Homo sapiens: one gene and its partners. The protein of the gene in region 4 interacts with the protein of the main gene of each other region in a biochemical or structural test. Each region holds a gene or a part of one and is shown on either strand. Other genes may lie near its edges.

Region 1 (3,500 bases), on a different chromosome or scaffold from region 4:
ACAGGCGTGAGCCACCACACCTAGCCATCTTTTTCTTATGACAGTATCACTCTTTTGCCTAGGCTGAAGTGTAGTGGTGCAATCAGGGTTCACTGCAGCCTCAACCTCCCAGGCTCGAGTGATCCTTCCACCTTGGCCTCTCGAGTAGCTGGGACTATAAGCGCACGCCCCCAAGTCTGGGTAATCTTTTTTTTTTTTTTTTTTGAGACAGAGTCTTGCTCTGTTGCCCAGGCTGGAGTGCAGTGGCACAATCTTGGCTCACTGCAAGCTCTGCCTCCCGGGTTCACGCCATTCTCCTGCCTCTGCCTCCCGAGTAGCTGGGACTACAAGCGCCCGCCACCATGCCCAGCTAATTTTTTGTATTTTTAGTAGAGATGGGGTTTCACTGTGTTAGCCAGGATGGCCTCGATCTCCTGACCTCGTGATCCACCTACCTTGGCCTCCCAAAGTGCTGGGATTATAGGCGTGAGCCACTGCACCCGGTTAAGCCTGGCTAATTTTATTTTGTAGAGATAGGGTTTTGCCATGTTGCTCAGGTTGGTCTTGAACTCCTGGGCAAGCACTCCACCTGCCTCGGCCCCTGAAAGTGCTGGGATTACTGGTGTGACTGTGCCCCATCCTCTTTTATGTTTATCCAACTTAGATCCCTTTAGCTGCAACTGAGGCCCCTCCCTTTTGTGTTTTTTTTTGAGATAGGAGTCTCACCACCACACCCTGCTAATCCTTATATTTTTAGTAGAGATGGGGTTTCATCATGTTGGTCAGGCTGGTCTGGAACTCCTGACCTCAGGTGATCCAACTGCCTCAGCCTCCCAAAGTACTGGGATTACAGGCATGAGCCACTGTGCCCGGCCTGGCCCCTCCCCACTTTTTTTTTTTTTTTGAGACAGAGTCTCGCTGTCGCCCAGGCTGGAGTACAGTGGTGCAATCTCGGCTCACTGCAGGCTCCGCCTCCCGGGTTCACACCATTCTCCTGCCTCAGCCTCCCGAGTAGCTGGGACTACAGGCGCCCACCACCATGCCTGGCTAATTTTTTGTATTGTTTAGTAGAGACAGGGTTTCACCGTGTTAGCCAGGATGGTCTCGATCTCCTGACCTCATGATCCGCCCGCCTCAGCCTCCCAAAGTGCTGGGATTACAGGAGTGAGCCACCGCGCCCGGCCAGCCCCTCCCTTTTTTTAAAAAAGGAGATGGGGTCTTGCTATGTTGCCCAGGCTGGCCTCGAACTCCTGGGCTCAAGAAATCCTCCCAAATTAGCCTCTGATGTAGCTGGCACTATACGTACGTGCCACCATGCCTGTCTGCCATTTTGTTTTGACCCAGCGACCATAAGAAGTTTCTTTTTTTTTTTTTTTGAGACGGAGTCTCGCTCTTTCGCCCAGGCTGGAGTGCAATGCTGCTATCTTGGCTCACTGCAAGCTCCATCTCCTGGGTTCACGCCATTCTCCTGTCTCAGCCTCCTGAGTGGCTGGGACTACAGGTGGCCGCCACCGTGCCTGGCTAATTTTTTGTATTTTTAGTAGAGACGGGGTTTCACCGTGTTAGCCAGGATGGTCTCGATCTCCTGACCTCATGATCCGCCCGCCTCGGCCTCCCAAAGTGCTGGGATTACAGGCGTGAGCTACTGCGCCCGGCCGACCATAAGAAGTTTCTAAGTCAGCCTTTTTTTTTCCTTTTCTGAGATGAAGTCTCATTCTGTCACCCAGGCTGCAGTGCAGTGGTATGATCTCGGCTCACTGCAAACTCCGCCTCCTCGGTTCAAGTCATTCTCCTGCCTCAGCCTCTCGAGTAGCTAGGATTACAGGCGTATGCCACCACAACTGGCTAATTTTTGTATTTTTAGTAGAGACGGGGGTTCACCATCTTGGCCAGGCTGGTCTCGAACCCCTGATCTCAGATGAACCGCCCACCTTGGCCCCCAAAGTGCTAGGATTATAGGCGTGAGCCACCGTGCCCAGCTATGTCAGCCTTCTCAGAAGGGACTTCATGCTAAACCTGTGTGTTTCCCGTCCGTCTTCCTTCTTTGTGTACTTGTTTGGTGAGAGAATGATCTAGAACACCCTCATTTCTGATTCCCTTCTAGGCACCGAGATCATTCAACCAAGGAAATCCACTGAGCAGGATAATGCTGCAGCACACACCTCGCTTAGTTCAGGGAAATTGTCCTGCTGACAGAAGGGGCACTGCCACAGCCCTGTCTCATCATTGCGGATCGCCTGGTCATAGCTCTCACCCTGGGGACGCCTGTGGGCAATGCCAGTGACATTGCAGATGATGAGCTTTCCTGCAAGAAGGAAAAGAGGATGGGGAGCAGGCTCAGAGAATGTGGAGAGCACTTCTTTCCACCAGCCTTTCAGTGACAGAATATCTGACTTCCTTCCCATCCTTGAAGAGGGAACTCTTCCCGATTTTTATTTATTTATTTATTTTTGAGATGAAGTCTTGCTCTGTTGCCCAGGCTGCAGTGCAGTGGTGCTATCTTGGCTGACTGTAACCTCTGCCTCCCAGGTTCAAGGAATCCTCCTGCCTCAGCCTCCCGAGTAGCTGGGATTACAGGTGCCCACCACCACGCTCAGCTAATTTTTTATTTTTAGTGGAGATGGGGTTTCACCATGTTGCCCAGACTGGTCTCGAACTCCTGGCCTCAAGCAGTCTGCCTGCCCTGGCCTCCCAAAGTGCTGGGATTACAGGCATGAGCCACTGTGCCTGGCCGTTCCCCTGATTTGATGATAGGGGAAAATAAAGCCTATAAGAAGACTAACTGCATGAAGATTCCATAGCACACTGGAAGCACATTTGACCTTAAATTCAGTTTTGATTTCCAGTCCAGGACTCTTTAGTCTTTTAAAATGCTCTCCTGGCCTTCCCCATGTACAACACAAACCTGCCTCAATCTGTTGGAACTGCTGCTTGGTTTGAATGTACACAGTAAACACACCTCCTGCCCCCAATAAAAAAATGACCCCAGAATTTACCAATGTAGAAGGTCTCTGGTGTTTCTTTGGTTAACATATTGAAGATCTCCTCTGTGTTGGGAGAGCGGTAGGCTGTCCGGAGGTCCTTATATCGACAGCTCAGCTCTGCCCGGATGTCATAGAGTGTGATGTGTTTGTCACCATAGCCCTGGGGAAGAAGCCCATCAAGAAGAGCCTTGCAGCTGCCCCCCAACCTGAGCCTCAAGGAGTCCCGTGGAAGGGGCGGGCCTCTCCAGATGGGAGTAAGTTTCTGTCAGGGCTTCTTCTTTTCTTTCCATCAACATTTACTAAAGGTGGTTTTCAAACTTAGCCATGAAACACTGTAATCAAAATGCTTTATGGAACCCCAATGAGTCCACAGATAAATGCAAAGCTGTGCTGTTAGAAAGGAGGAAAGGGGGCCTAGACGGAAACTGTAGTACTGACATCCTCCCAACTCCCTCCTGCCCCTTGTAATTATGGTGGCAATCTCTGAGACTTCCCTGGCTCCTTAACAAGCAGACCAAAAACTTCCTTGAGGAGCCC
Region 2 (3,500 bases), on a different chromosome or scaffold from region 4:
AGTCTAGGTGCTGCTGGAAGGAGATTTTACAAATGTGACTAGAACCCCTAATCAGTTGAGCTTAAATTAATCAAAAGCAAGGTTATTCTGAGCAGGTCTGACTTATGCAGTTGGAAGGCATTTTTTTTTAAAAACTTAGGCTTTCCTCACACTCAGAGACTTCAATAGCAGCTGTGTCTGTGACTGCTCTCCCATCACCCGGGTGGTCCTTCCAACTGCCACATGTGGACAACAAGCTTCAGCTTGCCCATGGGTTTTCAGCCTAAGTAGGCTCCTCCCTTCCTGCCTGTCTGCCCTTGCTTAGCTAGCCCCAGTAATTCCATAAGGCAATTCATTGTAGTAAATCAATATAGATGTGTGTATACATATATACCTTTCCATATATATATGTGTGTGATACATGTGTATATAATATAAAATACTATGTATGTATAGTCAGCCCTTTGTATCTGGAGGTTCTGCATTTGTGGATTCAACCAACTGCAGGCCAAAAATATTCAAAAGATTAATCAATTAAAAAATAGCAATACAATTTAAAAAATACAAATAAAAAACAATACCGTATAACAACTATTTGCATAGTATTTATACTGTATTACATATCACAAGTAATCTAGAGATGATTTAAAGGATACAGGGTGATGTGCATAAGTTGCATGTAAATACTACAGCATTTTATATCGGGGACTCGAGAACATGAGGATTTGGGTATCTGTGGGGGTCCGGGAACCAATCCCTTGCAGATAGCAAGGGACAACTGTACATATACTTATATGTATTATATATTGTATGAAAGTGACTGGTTCTGCATCTCTGGTTAAACTTTTACTAAATTTGGTATCAGGAATGGGGTGCTACTCTAACAAACAGTGGATGTTCTTCAACTTCAGATGGGGTTATGTTCCAACAAACCCATCATAAATTGAAAATGCATTTAATGCACCTAACCTACTGAACATCACAGCTTGGCCTAGCTTACCTTAAACACGCTCAGAACACTTACAGTAGCCTATGATAGGGCGGAATAATCTAACACAAAGCCGATTTTATAATCAAGTGTTGAGTATCTCATGTAATTCGTTGAATGTTGTACTGAAAATGTAGCACAGAATGATTGTATGGGCACTTGAAGTACAGTTTCTATTGAACCCATATCACTTTCGTAACATTATGAAATCCTAAGCCAAACCATTGTAAGTTGGAAACCTTCTGAACTTAAAATGTGGAAACAACTTTGGGACTTGGCAGCGAGTAGAGGCTAAGAGACTTTTGAGTAGCACAGCAGAGAAAGCCCAAATCACCATGAACAGACTGCTAGAGGAAATAGGGATGCTAAAGGTGAATCCTCCGGGGAGAACTCAGAAAGGAATGTGACAGGTGTTCCAGGAAATCGGAGCAAGGAGGATCCTTCCCATGTGTGCCAGAGAGTTTAATGAAATTGTCCATGGAGAGCAGGACTTGTAAGCGATGATGTTGGTCACATAGCTAAGGCTATTTCCAAACAAAGTGTTAAGTGTATCACCTGGTTTCTTCATGTTATTTATAGTGAAGCGGGAGAGGAAAGAGATAAATTGAGGGAAGAACATCGAACAAAAAAGAACCAGTATCTGATGATTCTGAAAATCCTTAGCCTCACCAGATGATGCTAAAAGGTGCTAAAATTAAGAGATTCTTCAGCTGATGAAGAAGCAACTCACCAGGAGCCCTACAGCTTCAAGGAAATCACTCCCACCAACAACTGTGTATGCTCAGGCGAGGGTGTGAAGCCTCAGTGGGGAGCCCAGCCCTGGCAGGCACCTTGATTACAGCCTTGAGACCCCGAGCTGAGGACCCAGTGAAGCTGGACTCTGACTCTCAACCCATAAATACCATAAGATAATAATTGCACTTTGTTTTAGTGGTAATTTATTATACAGTCATAGAAAACTAATAATACGACCTAGGACTTTACATTTCATACACGGAGCAGAAGAATAAATAAACCCAAGCTCAGGACCTCTGAGTATAATTTATTATGTGTGTGATAAAGAAGTAGTATTTTGCAGTAATTTGGGGATTACCATCTCAAATTACTCTAATGCAGAGTAATTCATTCTTTTTTGAATGTTATCATCAGAAAACCAGGGACGAACCAAGATGTTTACTATATACCTGCAGGAATAATTTTGTCAGCATACAGAATGCAATTTTACCAATAATGGAATGGTCTAGAAGCACACTGTTGGCAGGTGGGCACTCTCACACAGTAACTCAGAGAGAGATGACGGGGCTGCAGCCAGAGGCAGCACTCACCTGTGCTTCACCCACGTGTCAGACTCACTGGCTCGATCCGTGTAGTTTTCCGGCAGGAAGCCCCGGCAGCCCGTCCGCTGTGAGATCCCAATCACCCAGCCCTCGCTGGCTTCGTCCTGCTGCGTGGGGTCCACAAAGATGTAGTCACCAGGACTTAGCGTCAGCTCATCCACGTTCTGGGGTTTGTACTGGAATAGGGCTCTCAGGGTCTAGAAAAGAGGCAAAGGGGTTTCACGTCTCGAGCAAAGATTTACATTGGAAAATGGCAGCAATAGGAGGCCTATCACCTGCCACCTCCTGCTTTCTGCCCCTCCAATGTGTTCTGTGTCTCCAAGACTCCATCCAAAGCTTTGTCTGGCAATATATAGCACAGAATGTAATGAAACGCAGCATAGAATTCTTTGGATAGATTTAGAAATACATTTTGGGGCCAGGCGCGGTGGCTCACGCCTGTAATCCCAGCACTTTGGAAGGCCGAGGTGGGTGGATCACAAGGTCAGGAGTTTGAGACCAGCCTGGCCAATATGGTGAAACCCCGTCTCTACTGAAAATACAAAAATTAGCTGGACATGGTGGCGGGTGCCTGTAGTCCCAGCTACTTGGGAAGCTTGAGGCAGGAGAATCACTTGAACCTGGGAGGCGAAGGTTGAAGTGGGCGCAGATCACTCCACTGCATTCTACCCTGGGTGACAGGGTGAGACTCCCTCTCAAAAAAAAAAAAAAAAAAAAAAGAAAAAAAGAAAAAAAAAAGAGATACATTTTGGGATCTATCCATCATCCATCCATCTAGGTACTTTTTTGTCTACAAAAGATCTGAAGGCATAAGCAGACTTTCACATCCGCCTTCCTCGGTGTGAGGTTATTGACACCTCATACGATACAGAACATGGTGGATTCATTCACACGTGCTCTCTGGGTCTGAAAGGAGCATCACACACTTCGTTTCTAAACCCATCGATTCATGGGCAGGAAGTCCCAGAATGAGGTTTCACTCAAATCATTCTTTAAAGTGAATTGTGCTCACTTTGGCAGCACATATAACTAAAATTGGAATGCTGCAGAGAAGATTAGCATGGCCCCTACATTTAAAAAATAAATAAATAAAAAAGAATTAATAAGCAAAACATGTATTCATAGATCTTTACAATAGTCCTTTCCTTTCTGTCTTTTTTTTTTTTTTTTTTTTTTTTGCCAGTCTCGCTCTGTTG
Region 3 (3,500 bases), 8.5 Mb from region 4:
AACAAACTATAAACTTATTCCCCAAGAACAAATATAATAATTTTTCTGGAGTAGCAGGTAAGAAAGATATAAATTTATATGTATACAAGAAACTGAAATTAGACTTTATACATTTAAAGGTTACAAGTGCAGTTTTATTACATGAATGTATTATCCAGCATTGAAGTCTGGGCTTTTAGTGTAACCAGCACCTGAATAACATACATTGTACCCATTAAGTAATTTCTCATCCCTCAAACCCCTCCCACCCTGAAATTAGACTTTGGATCCCTAGTTTAAATTCCACCCCTCTCTTTTTTTGAGACAAGGTCTCACTCTGTCACCCAGGCTGGAGGGCAATGTTGCAATGATAGCTTACTGTAGCCTCAACCTCCTGGGCTCAAGGGATACACCCTCCTCAGCCTCCTGAGTAGCTGGAACTGCAGGCGTGCACCACCACATTCAGCTAATTTTTTGATTTTTTTATAGAGATGAGGTCGGAACTCCTGGGCTCAAGCGATTCTCCCCAAGTGCTGGGGTTACACACATGGGCCACTGCCCCCAGCCTAAACCTCCTTTCTCAGTATAGCAGCCTTGAGATGAAGTTCCTGAAATTACTGGCCAGCTTGACTGTTTCCCCACATCACTGGAGGAGGGGGATGCATAGATAAAACAAAATATTCAGCATCATTGTATTTTCTTTTTGTTTCATCAGCATCTTTTTTTAAAACTCACTTGACATAAGTCCCTAGCCTCAAAGAGTAAAGCCTTTGCAGAATCTGCATTCAGATTTCGGGTGTGATTTCCTGACAGATAGTTCAGGTTTGTAAACTCTTTTTTTTTTCTTTGAGACAGAGTTTCACTCTTGTAGCGCAGGCTGGAGTGCAGTGGCACCATCTTGCCTCACTGCAACTTCTGCCCCCTTGATTCACGCGATTCTCCTGCCTCAGCCTCCTGAGTAGCTGGGATTACAGGCATGCGCCACCACACCTGGGTAATTTTTGTATTTTTAGTAGAGATGGGGTTTCACCATGTTGGCCAGGCTGGTTTTGAACTCCTGACTTCAGGTGATCTACCTGCCTCAGCCTCCCAAAGTGATGGGATTACAGGTGTGAGCCACCGCAGCCGGCCAAAACTTTGTTTTTTTTCCTCTTTTTGTTGCTGAGAAATGTAAACTCTTACAGACACAAATTATGTCTCCCATTTTTTAAAACCCACTCAACACAGGGGTCATGTGTAATAGGCCCTGGAGCTTATTTTAGACATTGATTTGAGGCTCTTTTCCCCAAGTGCTGGTTTGTGTGTGTGTGTATGTGTGTGTAAGTCTTTCTATGAGATGAGTGGTACCTACCTGGGCTGTGTGATCTTTTTTATTTTATTTATTTTATTTTTGTAGATACGAGGTCTCACTATGTTGCTCAGGCTGGTCTTGAACTCTGGGGCTCAACCTATCCTCCCTCCTTGGCCTCCTAGAGTGCTGAGATTACAGGTGTGAGCCACTGCACCTGGCCAGCGATCCTTAATAAATATAGATAATGGCCGGGCGTGGTGGCTCACACCTATAATACCAGTACTTTGAGGGGCCGAGGCTGGCAGGTCACCTGAGCTGAGGAGTTTGAGACCAGCCTGGGTAACGTGGGTGAAACCCTGTCTCTACAGAAAATAGAAAAATTAGCCAGGTGTGGTGGTGCATGCCTGTAGTCACAGCTACTTGGGAGGTTGAGACAGGAGAATTGCTTGAACCTGGAAGGTGGAGGTTGCAGTGAGCCGAGATCGTGTCTTTGAACTCCAGCCTGGGTGACAGAGTGAGACCTTGTCTCAAAAAAAAATATAGATATAGGCTGGGCGTGGTGGCTCACACCTGTAATCCCAGCACTTTGGGAGGCCGAGGCGGGTGGATCAGGAGGTCAGGAGATCGAGACCATCCTAGCTAACATGGTGAAACCCTGTCTCTACTAAAAATACAAACAATTAGCCAGGCCTGGTGGTGGGTGCCTGTAGTCCCAGCTACTCGGGAGGCTGAGGCAGGAGAATGGCGTGAACCCGGGAGGTGGAGGTTGCAGTGAGCCGAGACTGTGCCACTGCCCTCCAGCCTGGGCGACAGAGCGAGACTCTGTCTCAAAAAAAAAAAATCTATATATCTATATATCTATATCTATATAGATATAGATATAGATAATGCCAGATGATGGCTGGTTAGAAGGGATTGTCAGGGGCTGGCAGGTTTTGCAGGTGTTAGAATGAGCAAGATGAGGAGAAGGATGCTTACTTCCCTCTCCTTGTAACTCTCTACCCCCTCCCCTCAGTGTTTTTTTATTTTTATTTTTATTTATTTATTTTTTTTGAGACAAGGTCTTGCTCTGTCACCCACACTGGATTGCAGTGATGCAATCATAGCTCATTGAAGCCCAAACTCCTGGGCTCAAGTGATCCTCTTGCCTCAGCCTCCCAAGTAACTGGGACCACAGGTGCGTACAACTATGCCCAGTTAAGTTTTTCATTTTTTATACAGACGGGGTCTTGCTATGCTGTCCAGGCTGGACTTGCACTTCTGGCTTCAAGTGATTCTCTTGCCTCAGTTTCCCAAAGTGCTGGCATTATGGGCATAAGCCACTGTGCCTAGCCCATCAGTGTCTTTTTATCCTTTACTCCTATCAAAATTCATTCACTCAGCAGCCATTGATCAAGTGCCTACTATATACATGTTGAGGACTGGAAATTTATTTGTCTCTTCTCATCTTATCTGGACCCTCTGTGTTAATTGTAATTAACTGTAATCATTCTGTATTAATTGTAATAAACTTGTTGATAAACTCAAATGAGGCCATACCGTTTTGCCACTTCCCCTCCTTCCAGGTTATATGGATGTACTTACATTGCAGGTTTCATTTGTTGGTTCAGTTTTTAAACTAAGCCCTATTGTGTCAAATTATGCTAGGTGTGAGATGGGGAGTTCAAGCTGTGTGTTGTCTTTTTTTTTTTTTTTTTTTTTGCCTCACTTACTAATATACAAGCGCTTATAACCTTTGAGGCTGGCCCTATACATTAAGATTTTTATTAATTCCACTGTTCTTTATCTTCTCTTACTAAGTTCTCAGGGTCGAATGAACTCTAACTGCTCCTTGCTAGTGATAAGCAAGTTGCAAATTACAGAATTGTCAGTGATTGAATACACGTATTAAACCTGTAACTGGGAAGCATTTTTGGTAATTATGAATACTTTTGGAAAAAAAAAAGCTATGGAAGGAAAGTTTAAAATCTACGAAAGCTCAAGTAGATGGTCATGGAATAGCTATTTCAATTTCTAACTATATATTACTTATTTATTTATTTATTTTTGAGACGGAGTTTAGCTCTTGTTGCCCAGGCTGGAGTGTAATGGCGTGATCTCAGCTCACTGCAACCTCCACCTCCCGGGTTCAAGCTATTCTCCTGCCTCAGCCTCCCGAGTAGCTGGGATTATAGACATGTGCCACCACGCCAGGCTAATTTTGTATTTTTAGTAGAGACGGGGTTTCTCC
Region 4 (3,500 bases):
GCCCCTTACCCAATCTTTGTTTTGGAGATAATACCAGCTTCAATACAAAGAGTAAAATTGCCTTAAATGTCTACCACTGTCTACTATAAGGTAGACAACAAGTTTACGAAGGGATTTCTCCTACATTTGATTGAGAAAGAAAAGGTCTTTGACTCATGATTTTCTGATTTTATTGTATTTGATATGTAAATGGGAATTTTCTTAATGTGTTATGCATAGTCTTTACTTTTGCATTGGATTATATGCTTAGCCTAATATCTGAATTTATTTTACATTTTTAAATGTAATAGCTGCACGAGGTTAATGACAACATTCCTCAAGTGAGTTAAGTCCATTTCAAATCACGTCCCCCACACCCCCAAGCATTAAATTATGGGTATCCAGATAGAATGTCTCATAAAGTAGACGGTACAGGACCTGTGAATTAACAGTATTTGAACTCAAGGGCCTATACCTGGAGGTATAGTGAGTCTTTGGTACTCTTTATTTTCAAGAAATATAGTATTTCAAGTTTATGTTTTAATGTCACAGCAATGATCTTGAAAATGACTTCTCCCCTACTTTTATTCTCTCTTCTTTCACCTGGAGTATGTTTCTGATATGCTATCTAGTCATCATCCTTTTTTCCCAAGGCCTAGCTTAAGGATTCTTTTTTTTTTTCCCCCGAGACAGAGTCTTGCTCTGTCACCCAGGCTGGAGTACAGTGGCGCAATCTCTGCTCACTGCAACCTCCGCCTCCTGGGTTCAAGTAATTCTCCTGTCTTAGCCTCCTGAGTAGCTGGGATTACAGGCACCTGTCAGCACACCCGCTAATTTTTGTATTTTTAGTAGAGACGGTGTTTCACCATGTTGGCCAGGCTGGTCTCGAACTCCTGACCTCATGATCCGCCCTCTGCGGCCTCCCAAAGTGCTGGGATTACAGGCGTGGGCCACTGCGCCTGGCCAGGATTATTATTCTTAAAGCCTTTTCTCACAAATGTAGTCTCCATTGTTGTCACAATTCTAAAATTCCATATATGTCTTTTAACTATAAATTTCATGCAGAGAATAGTGTTCTGTTTATCTGATATCCCATTGCAATAGTACAAGGGCCATTTAAAACATGTCCACCTATTAATTTCAGGAAATGATTAATAGGAAGTTACCTTGCATCCAACAAACATGAAGACTTACTATGTCCATGCACTGATGGTCACAGGTAGACATAACTCCTGTCTTTTCTAACATTTAGACTAGTGAAAATGACAAATCAAAGCCAGGCATGGTGACTCACTCCTGTTGTCACTCAGGAGGCTGATGCAGGAGTATCAGTTGATTCCAAGAGTTCGAGGCTGTAGTGTGCTGTAATGGCATTGCACTCTAGCTCTAGCCTGGGTAACATAGCCAGACTCCGTCTCTTTTTTATTTAAAAAAGAGGAAAAAAAGCAAGTCATAATCCGAGCCCTACATAGATAATGGGTACACCAGGATAGGGAAGGATGTGGTTCCTCCCTGTCCTCAGAGCTTTAAACTAGAGAAGAGAGAATAATCACAACCAACAGTAAAAAGCTAAGGATTTTGAAGGTATATTCAAAATGCATTTGGAACTGAGCTCAGATAAAGTTAATTTTTCTTGGAATCATTGGCGAAGGCATCGTGGAGAAGGTATTATTATTGGAGCACAATCCAGAGGCTACATAGATTTTTCTGAACTTGGGGAGGCAGAGCTACAATTACGGTAGTAAGAATAAACTAAGAGGGAACAAACAGGACATTAAATCAGTTCGTCTGTTCAGCAGTGCTCCAGGTACTTGGGACTCATCAGTAAATAAAATAGTTCCCTTCATTTCATTTTTCATCTAACCGTGTCCACTTGCTCCCCACCCCACCTCCCCGTTAAAAGGGAGCAATACAGGCTGGGCACATGGCTCACGTGTGTAATCTCAACACTTTGGGAGGCTGAGGTGAGAGGATCACTTGAGGCCAAGAGTTCAAGACTAGCCTGTGCAATATAGTGATACCCTGTCTCTATAAAAACTAAATAAGGAAACAGTGCAGTCATCCCTTTTTGTCCATGGGGTGTTGGTTCCAGAACATCCCATGGATACCAAAATCCACACATAGTCAAGTCCCTTAGGTAAAGTCGTGCCGTATTTGCATATAACCTATGCACATCTTCCCATGTACTTTAAATAATCTATAGATTACTTTTAATACCTAATGCAATTTAAGTGCTATGTAAATAGCTATTATACTGTATTGGGTTTTTTATTTTTTTCTTGTTTTGCCCTTTCTAATATTTTCAATCCGAGGTTGATTGACTCTGCAGATAAAGTAGACTGGAAAAGTACAGTCGTCCTTAGGTGTATGAGGGAGATTGGTTCTAGGACCCCTGCCAAAATCCACAAATATTCTAGTCCCCCAGTCTGCCCTGTGGAACCCGTGTATATGAAGAGTGGGAGCTCTGTGTGTGTGGATTCCACATCCCAAGAATACGGTATTTTCTATCTGAGTTTGGTTGCTGAACCTGCACATACGGAGGGCGGACTGTATTTATTGGAAAAAAAATAGCATATAAGTTCAAACCTGTGGTGTTCAAGTGTCAATAGTACATTTTGATTTTTTTTTTTTACCAAGAGTTGTTCTGTGTAATTATGAAAGAATAAGGGAAACGTATGAACCCTAAAATTGGATATGTTTTGTTAATGTTCATTTTTATCTCTTAACAGTTACTATGCGAGTCAGAAGAAAACATTTGAAATTAATCCCAGACACCCGCTGATCAGAGACATGCTTCGACGAATTAAGGTAGTATTAAAGCAGTCCTCTTGCTTGTCTTTTAATTTGAGTACTTTGTATCTTTTAATATTAATCTAGTGCATCTTCTTGCATTTCAGGAAGATGAAGATGATAAAACAGTTTTGGATCTTGCTGTGGTTTTGTTTGAAACAGCAACGCTTCGGTCAGGGTATCTTTTACCAGACACTAAAGCATATGGAGATAGAATAGAAAGAATGCTTCGCCTCAGTTTGAACATTGACCCTGATGCAAAGGTTTGTATCCCCAACCTTCCCGCAAAGGCTGGCTGGCTTTCTTTGTTTCTGTTCTTTCAGAATAGGCCTCTCATGATTGAGGGATGTAGCTTTGCGACATTTGCCTAATTTCTACCTTTTGAAAGAATTTTATTGAATGTTTGAATCCCTGTAGTGTCAGGCACTGCACTAGAAACTAAGTCCTCCTTTTACGTCCTCTTTCCTTTTTGCCTGCCTCCTTTTGTTAGCTTGGCTGTTCATTCTAGTTAAGAGGATTTAGTCTGTGGTTCTGAATAAACAGAAGTGACATTAATTATGATTTTATACATATAAATGAGCAAAGTGGAAATAAATCCAAGGCATTAATGGGCCCATAAATGTTGTGTTTAGGTGGAAGAAGAGCCCGAAGAAGAACCTGAAGAGACAGCAGAAGACACAACAGAAGACACAGAGCAAGACGAAGATGAAGAAATGGATGTGGGAACAGAT

The links. Proteins that work in one complex are often made in the same cells at the same time.
Region 1: the proteins of HSP90B1 (region 4) and SUPT6H form a complex in vitro, tested with the Homo sapiens proteins (one large-scale study listed by BioGRID).
Region 2: the proteins of HSP90B1 (region 4) and UBASH3A form a complex in vitro, tested with the Homo sapiens proteins (one large-scale study listed by BioGRID).
Region 3: the proteins of HSP90B1 (region 4) and PTPN11 form a complex in vitro, tested with the Homo sapiens proteins (one large-scale study listed by BioGRID).

Annotation. Positions count from the first base shown.
Region 1 is NC_000017.11:28,689,705-28,693,204, reverse strand, and holds part of SUPT6H (transcription elongation factor SPT6), read right to left. Parts: intron 3,124-3,500; coding exon 2,976-3,123; intron 2,285-2,975; coding exon 2,142-2,284; intron 1-2,141.
Region 2 is NC_000021.9:42,417,402-42,420,901, reverse strand, and holds part of UBASH3A (ubiquitin-associated and SH3 domain-containing protein A), read right to left. Parts: intron 2,502-3,500; coding exon 2,293-2,501; intron 1-2,292. UniProt on the Homo sapiens protein: Interferes with CBL-mediated down-regulation and degradation of receptor-type tyrosine kinases. Promotes accumulation of activated target receptors, such as T-cell receptors, EGFR and PDGFRB, on the cell surface.
Region 3 is NC_000012.12:112,425,447-112,428,946, forward strand, and holds part of PTPN11 (tyrosine-protein phosphatase non-receptor type 11), read left to right. Parts: intron 1-3,500. UniProt on the Homo sapiens protein: Acts downstream of various receptor and cytoplasmic protein tyrosine kinases to participate in the signal transduction from the cell surface to the nucleus. Positively regulates MAPK signal transduction pathway. Dephosphorylates GAB1, ARHGAP35 and EGFR.
Region 4 is NC_000012.12:103,943,910-103,947,409, forward strand, and holds part of HSP90B1 (endoplasmin precursor), read left to right. Parts: intron 1-2,708; coding exon 2,709-2,787; intron 2,788-2,876; coding exon 2,877-3,032; intron 3,033-3,401; coding exon 3,402-3,500.